Linked DNA regions of Homo sapiens. The protein of the gene in region 2 interacts with the protein of the main gene of each other region in a pairwise test. Each region holds a gene or a part of one and is shown on either strand. Other genes may lie near its edges.

Region 1 (3,621 bases), on a different chromosome or scaffold from region 2:
ATTTATTCACCATCCCAGCTGCTAGAGTGCAAAGATGAATGAATTAGGTCTTGTAGGTCCTGCTAAGGAATTTTGTCTTTATTGTGGGGAGCCATTGAAAGTTTTCAAACGGGTGACATGATCAACTATGAAGTCTGGCAGGGATGTGGAAGCAAGATAAGATGTAAGTGACATCTTTTATCATATAGTCCAAAACATTAAATAAAAATAGGTTTAAAAATGAACACTGATACAGGAGTCTCAGAGAATATGCTAAGCATAAAGCATAGGTAACAGAACATACACGCTATAATTTCACTTTTGTTGAAAAAAAATAAACTAAAAGATGAAAAAAAACTTTAGAAATACACCAAAATTCAAACAGCTTCTTTCTTTCTTTTTCTTTTTTGAGACAGGGTCTCACTCTGTTACTCAGGCTGGAGTGCACTGGCACGATCTTGGCTCACTGTAGCCTCAACCTCCTGGGCTCAAACCGTCCTCCCACCTCAGTGCCCCAAGTACCTGGGACTACAGGCATGCATCACCATGCCTGGCTAATTTTTTGAACTTTTTTGTAGAGACAGGGTTTGCCTTGTTGGCCAGGCTGGTGTCAAACTCCTGAGCTAAAGTGATTCAGCTGCCTTGGCCTCCCAAAGTGCTGGGATTACAGTTGTGAGCCACCACGGCCAGCCCTAACAGCTTATTGTGTGTGAGAAGATTTTGTGTAATATTTTCTTTCTATTCTTCATCATTTTCCAACATTATTAATACAATATCTATGTATAATTTTTAGTATCAATAAAAGACATGCTTTTTTTTAATTAAAAGAAACTAGATAACTCTGAGCACTGATACACTTGAACACTGCTTTCTTTACTTGATGTTTGGAAGTGACATTGACCCTGTGTCTTTAATCCATCAGCACAGGAGAAAACGACGCTCCACACCTTTAACTTCTTCCACACTTCCTTCACAAGCAACAGAGAAAAGCTCCTATTTTCAGACCACCGAGATTTCACTCTGGACGGTGGTGGCCGCTATTCAGGCTGTGGAGAAGAAGATGGAGTCCCAGGCTGCCCGGCTACAGAGCCTGGAGGGGCGCACGGGGACAGCCGAGAAGAAGCTGGCTGACTGCGAGAAGATGGCCGTGGAGTTCGGGAACCAGCTGGAGGGCAAGTGGGCCGTGCTGGGGACCCTGCTGCAGGAGTATGGGCTACTGCAGAGGCGGCTGGAGAACGTGGAGAACCTGCTGCGCAACAGGAACTTCTGGATCCTGCGGCTGCCCCCGGGCAGCAAGGGGGAGGCCCCCAAGGTAGTCTCATTGAGGATTAAAAGTTAGAAGAGAAGGGGGAGCCAGCCCTTTAATATGTAAGCACCTCAGTTGCTGGCTTTTCTGTCATAGCTGTGAGTAGAAGCACTCATGGTGTGCCATTGGTGATTCCAGGTGTCCAGGTCACTGGAGAATGATGGCGTCTGTTTCACCGAGCAGGAATGGGAGAATCTGGAGGATTGGCAGAAGGAGCTCTACAGAAACGTGATGGAGAGTAACTATGAGACACTGGTCTCTCTGAGTGAGTAGCAGTTTTCTCCCTAGAATTCTGTCTCAGACATACTACAATTCCTGGCTGGCAGCCTGTAATTCAGACCACACCTGTGGCTCCTGTGGCTGTGGGTCCTCTGTCGGCCTGCACGGGCAGAGAAATGCCAGTCTCTAGGTCCTCCCATTTACAGACCTGCACGGGTGGAGAAATGCCAGTCTCTAGGTCCTCCCATTTACAGAGACTTTTGGAAAGCTCGCAGCATTGTGCCTTTTGTGTTTTTTTTTTTTTTTTCCTGTGGTCACATAGTCTGTTCTTGATAGTATTTTCTAATAAATAAAATGTCATATACCCTATAGTGTGATATGGCTAGGGTTCCTCATGTTGTTTTTTAATTTATTTTATCTTTTTTTTTTCTTTTTTTCTTTGAGACAGAGTCTTGCTCTATTGCCCAGGCTGGAGTGCAGTGGCACAATCTTGGCTCACTGCAACCTCTGCCTCACAGGTTCAAGCGATTCTCCTGCCTCAGCCTCTCGAGTAGCTGAAATTACAGGTGACTGCCACCACGCCCAGCTAATTTTTGTATTTTTAGTAGAAATGGGGTTTCACCATGTTGGCCAAGCTGGTCTTGAACTCCTGACCTCGTGATCTGCCCACCTCAGCCCCCCAAAGTGCTAGGATTACAGGTGTGAGCCACTGCGTCTGGCCTGTTTTATCTTTTTTTTTTTTTTTTTTTTTTTTGAGACTCTGTCACCTAGGCTGGAGTGCAGTGGTACGATCTCGGCTCACTGCAGCCTTGACAGCTTGGGCTCAAATGATTCTCCCACCTCAGTTTTCCGAGTAGCTGGGATTACAGGCACATGCCACTGCGCCTGGCTAATTTTTTAAATTTTTTGTAGAGACGTGGGTCTTACTGTGTTGCCCAGGCTGGTCTTGAACTTCTGGGCTCAAGTGATCCACCCACGTCGGCCTCCCAAAGTGCAGGGATTACAGGCGTGAGCCTCCGCACCTGGCCTCTCATGCTGTTTTTAATATTTAAGACTATTTGAGATGGGTGTGGTAGCTCACATCTGTAATCCCAACACTTTGGGAGGCCAAGGTGGGAGGATAGCTTGAGGCTAGGAGTTCGAAATCAGCCTGGTCGACATAGTGAGATCTCTGTTGCTTAAAAAAAAAAAAAAAAAAAAAAGATGATTTGATAACCCTATGTTACCTTGGATGAGGCAGGCAGCACAGGCTGATCAAAAGCATTTTCTTGGTGTTTGGCCGGAATTATAGCTGGTCATTGTGGTCTCAGTGATTTTTTCTTGTTGATTAGGAGTGCTGCTTAATAGATATAAGTCTTTATATGCAAAATGTTACCTATTACATAATAAATGTGTTTTGTTTGGTAGACAAAGTCTTTTAAAACCTAGGTACATGGAGGAGTGTCAAGTGCCTGGAGCAGAGTAGGAGGTAAAGGAAATAGAAAATGGGCCAGAAAAGTGACCTTGTAAGCTTGGTTGGGTCACATGCTCTCATTGTGACTGTTTCCTTGTCTGTCCCAGTGCCCATCTTACCTTGCAGTGCCTTAGCAAGGATGAAATTAGATCCCCTGAAAGGAAGCATTGGCAAGACTTAAGCTGCACGCACATGGAGAGGCAGAGGTGGGTGGTGGTGCCATCAAGGGCAGTGGTAGCTCTGTAGCCTGCCTGCCTGAGCCACAGCCCCTCTAATGGAGGAGCACTGGAGGCAGCAGCTAGCCAAGTCAGTTGTTATGATTGGCCAGAATTTTATAATTGTCCCAAACTGCTAGGGGAAACTGACAAGAACAGTAGCCTTTGAATCTATATTTCCTCCCTGCCATTGGTCATCTTGGTCACTGGCAGCTGATCAGTGTGCAGTGAGCTTTCACTCTCTCCTGGGCTCACACTGTGCTGTTTCCCACCCAGAGGTCCTTGGCCAGACAGAGGGAGAAGCGGAGTTGGGTACAGAGATGCTGGGTGACTTGGAAGAGGAAGGTCCTGGTGGTGCCCACCCAGGTGAGTGGCTCTGGAATATTCTGTTCCCCTTCCATAGCCCTCTGTAGCCTAGAGTGAGCTTTCCCACGGCTGAAGTGCCAGGT
Region 2 (4,287 bases):
CGCAGTGGAAGGCAGGAGGAACACATCAGCATAAGCCCTTCTCTCAGGAAGGTGTCTCTGGAAGCCATAAGTGTCCTGGTAAGAGCTGAAGCAGCCCCACCCTGAAAGCTGCTTCATGGGTGGCCGAGGCCAGTCTTGCCCGAGTGAGGGCTGTGGGCTCAGGTGAGATTTGAGATCCAGGGCATCCAGCAGGCCGAGCTTGCAGGTGGGGCCCCTTGGAGGATATGCTCCCTTGGCCAGCCCCAGATCCTGGCATCACATGTGCTGTCCGCCCCACAAATGGTGGATCTGGAGCACGGCCTTGGAGCCAGCTACCTGCCAGCCAGTAAAACTGTTCTTTTTTATCTCCTAATTCTTCTACTTATTAATTGTGCATTCTAAAAAAATCTAGACTTTGTTGAAGACTATAAAAAAGTGAACACCCTGAGCAGCGTGTGGTGGCTCACGCCTGTAATCCCAGCACTTTGGGAGGGTGAGGTGGGTGGATCGCCTGAGGTCAGGAGTTCGAGACCAGCCTGGCCAACAGAGTGAAACCCTGTCTCTATCAGAAATACCAAACATTAGCCGGGCGTGGTGGCAGGCGCCTGTAATCCCAGCTACTCGGGAGGCCGAGGCAGGAGTATCACTTGAACCCAGGAGGTGGAGGTTGCAGTGAGCCGAGATCGTGCCATTGTACTCCAGCCTGGGCAACAAGAGCGAAACTCCATCTCAAAAATAAATAAATAAATAAATAAATAAATAAATAAATAAATAACTGCCTTGGTCTCTAAATTTTGCTGATAAATTTGAGCTCTCGGTTCTCTAGGAAGAGACACCAGCTTGGACACTGTCAGGAACCACATTCAAATGGAAGAAAATGTGACAGAAAACAAGGCTCCAACCCAGGCACGTCTCTGCTGTCCTCTTCCCAATAATGTCCACCTCAAAACCCACAGGGAGAAGGAAGGGCCCCTTGTCTAACACAGCAGTCCTCAGGATCTCACTGACTACCTTGCAGGTGCCCTTCCCTTAGGTGCCAAGAGTTGGCACAGCCTAGCAATGCACGTCGTGCAGGACCTGAGGTGTCTCTGAAGGTGGGGCTAGATCTGACAGACAGATGGGATATTTCTGAGAAGCGAATCCCACTACAACGGTTTGTGTTCAAAAATTTCAATTAGGTTAGAGAACAAAACAGCACATATAACTGCGGCTCAAGATAAGATGCCCTGGCCCCGCACACCACAGACAAAGCCTTGAGGGGCCCATGCTGCAGGGATTGGTCCTTGGCCAGAACTTTGAAACTGAACAGAGGCAAGGAGCGTCTTTAAGGGACAGAGACAGGACCGAGCACCCCTACCACTCACTGCGAATCTTGGAAGTGCCCACGAAATGAGATGTTTTCCACCCAGTCACTTCTGCAAAGGTTTAAACCTGTCAGATCTGGTGCAGGTGAGGATGGAAACGGCCCCTCCGCACCCTGGCAGGTGTGTGACTCAGAGCAGCCCTCTGGACAGATGATCAGGGTCCTCAGAACAGAACCCTCAGACTCAACAATCCCACTGCTAGGAACTGGCTTTCCTAAGAAGCAATCTCACACAAGTGCACAAAGACAAATTTAAAAGGATTGAGGCAGCAATGCTTATAGCAGCAGAGCATTAGAAACAGACGGGAGTCGGCTAAATGATCAAACGTTCACAAAACGCAGCACCAAGCAGCTGTGAAAAGGATGAGACCGCTTCCTATGTGCAGCCTGATACACTGTGAGATTAAAAAGCAAATTGTGCTTATGGCCTGATCCCGTGTTCGTAACATACAAAGTCACATCCACACGAGAGCATGCAGGAAACCTGGAAGGGAGCCCATAAAACTCGCCAGTGTGAGGACCAGCACTGAGCAGCCGGAGACTCATCTTCACTTACACTTAAGAGCCTCCCTCATGTGCTTTCAGAGGTGAGCTCTCGAGGGGACGAAAGTCATGTGTGATCCGTTCCCCATCAAGACCCCAGGCCTTCTGCAGAATATGCATGCAGAACAGGCCACAGGTTTTTGCCTCTTAGAAGCTGCGGAATGAGTTACAGGGAACAGGGCCTCCAGCTTCAGAACCCAGAAACCTGGCCAAGGCATCTGAAGCTGGTCCAGGGGCCACAAGGAGAGCCCCGTCCCTGGCTAGCAGGGGTGCCATCCCCACTGCAGGGCCAGCCTAGTGCCCGCTCACCTTGGTGAACTTGGTGAACCGTTGCTCTAACACCCACCGCCAACTGCAGGGCCAGCGTGGTGCCACTCACCTTGGTGAATCGCTGCTCTAACACTTCATGCTCCCACTGCAGGTCTTTCAGCTCTTTCTCCCTGACTTTCAAACGGGCTTTTGTGCACTGGAGGAAAAACAGGGAGTAGGGGACAGAAAGTATTCAAGATTCACAGTCATCCAAGTAACACGGGCTCCTGGGAGATGGCAAGGCCAAAAATAATCGCCAGAAAGACCTGGTTCCAGGACACAAGCAGCTGAGTCTCACCAAGGCCGGCCGGTAGCACGTGGTGAAGATGAGGGCCTTGTCTCCAAAACACCCCCAGACTTTACTTTCCCCAGGAGAACACGAGGCAGAGAAAGGAGAAATGCAGGCCTCCCCGTCTCCCTTCCTGCCCTAAGGGCCAAGCCCCTCCCTGTGATGCTCCTCCCTCCTGAGCCTAGGCAAGCTCATGCCAAGGAGGGAGAGGAATCCAGCGGGAAACTCACAAGCAGGATCTGCTTGTCCCTCTCGTAGTTTGCGAGCTGTTTCTGCATCTCGCTCATCTCCTCCCGAGCCTTCTGGAGAGGGTCTGCCAGGCGCTTGTTCTGCCCAGACACCTCTGCCATCTCCCTCTCCAGGTGGTCCTCCTTCTTCCGCATGTCCTCCATCTGCTCCTGCAGGCACAAGCACAGGCCCGGCAGGGGCTCAGCAGGCAGAACCAAAGGGGCTGTGGCCTGCATGGTGAGAGCTGGGTGCTCTCCTGCCCATCACCAGCTGCTGCCAGCCTCAGGCATGCTGGCACCTAGACGTCTTCTATGTATAAACAGTATTTCTGCAGCTTCAACTTATTCTGAGTTTTCTGGGAATGCAGCTTCCATGCAGACTGAAGGACTATACTTTGTTCAAGATTCCACCAAGGGCCGTTGTCTACTGTAGAAAATCCTGTCACTGCCAGCATGCAGTGACGATGACACCTATCCACCTGTCGCAGGCAGTGACTATGACACCTATCCACTCCAGCCACATCACGGCCCTCACTGCGGTTCCATCTGAGCTTTTACAAACCAGAACACACTTCATTACTTCCCCCTCTGCACTACGGTGAGGGCAATATCCTGACTGCTTTTAACAATAGGTAGAGATAGGTTACGTTATTTAGGAATTTCAGTTAAGGATATGAGAGGGGCATTGTCAAACAATCTTATAAAAAGTACTGGGTGTGTTGGGGTGGAGAGCTGGGGTCTGGATCCCCAGGACTCTGCAGCCCACATTCTAGGACAGGCAGAGTGTGCCTCCCCAGCCCAGCCCACGCACAGCACCTTGAGGGAGTTGATGAGGGCCAGGTTGTTGAGGGTGATGTCGTTGTAGTAGTTCTTAATGTCGGTGAAGGCCTCCTCGTGGCGCTGCATCAGCGTGTGGATCTGGCCATTCTTCCTCTCCTCCACTTCGTGGAGCTCAGTCTTTCTCCGCAAGTCGAGTTCGTCCCTCAGCATCTTCATCTTCTTATCATACTTGGCCTCAATTTCTGAAAGGCAGCAGCAAACAGCAGCTTAGCAGAGGAAGACGTGGTGCCCCTACGGCTACAGAACATGGAGCCTGTAAACGGGCCCAAAACGCCCACTGTGGTCAGAACAGCCTTGCAGGCAAAAGCTCTGCAAGAGAAGAACAAAGGGGTTTAGACTGAGTTTTTCTGCTGATGCTCACACTCAGCACACACACCACTGTCGGCCTGCCTTTGCCAGTGACAGGCATTGCTAATCGCTCCCTGCACTGGGGGTGCCAACAGCTGAATGTCAGCTGACCCCAGTGAGCAGTAACCGAGGCCTGTGTGGCCACCCAGCCACAATCAGCCTTTATTAGTAAAACACAGAGACTTCTGAAATTGGAGCCTTCTCAGACCAGGAGCCATGGAGAAGACTATTTTAAGAAGGCTGCCCACGGCACTGAATAGCTACCACCTGCTGATAACTACTGATTTTAGCTAGGAGTGGGAATGTGTGTGGTAATCACAGCCTCCCAAACTCACATGGAAATAGGTTGTTCTGGGATTCTGAGTGGGTCCACTGGCCTTGGAAACTTC

The links. The genes of interacting proteins can lie anywhere in the genome.
Region 1: the proteins of DRC4 (region 2) and ZNF212 interact in binary tests that used the Homo sapiens proteins (3 or more experiments, as listed by UniProt).

The regions. Positions count from the first base shown.
Region 1 is NC_000007.14:149,249,258-149,252,878, forward strand, and holds part of ZNF212 (zinc finger protein 212), read left to right. Parts: intron 1-901; coding exon 902-1,291; intron 1,292-1,423; coding exon 1,424-1,550; intron 1,551-3,448; coding exon 3,449-3,538; intron 3,539-3,621.
Region 2 is NC_000016.10:90,035,826-90,040,112, reverse strand, and holds part of DRC4 (dynein regulatory complex subunit 4), read right to left. Parts: intron 3,733-4,287; coding exon 3,527-3,732; intron 2,882-3,526; coding exon 2,714-2,881; intron 2,352-2,713; coding exon 2,265-2,351; intron 353-2,264; exon of another isoform or gene 1-352. UniProt on the Homo sapiens protein: Component of the nexin-dynein regulatory complex (N-DRC), a key regulator of ciliary/flagellar motility which maintains the alignment and integrity of the distal axoneme and regulates microtubule sliding in motile axonemes.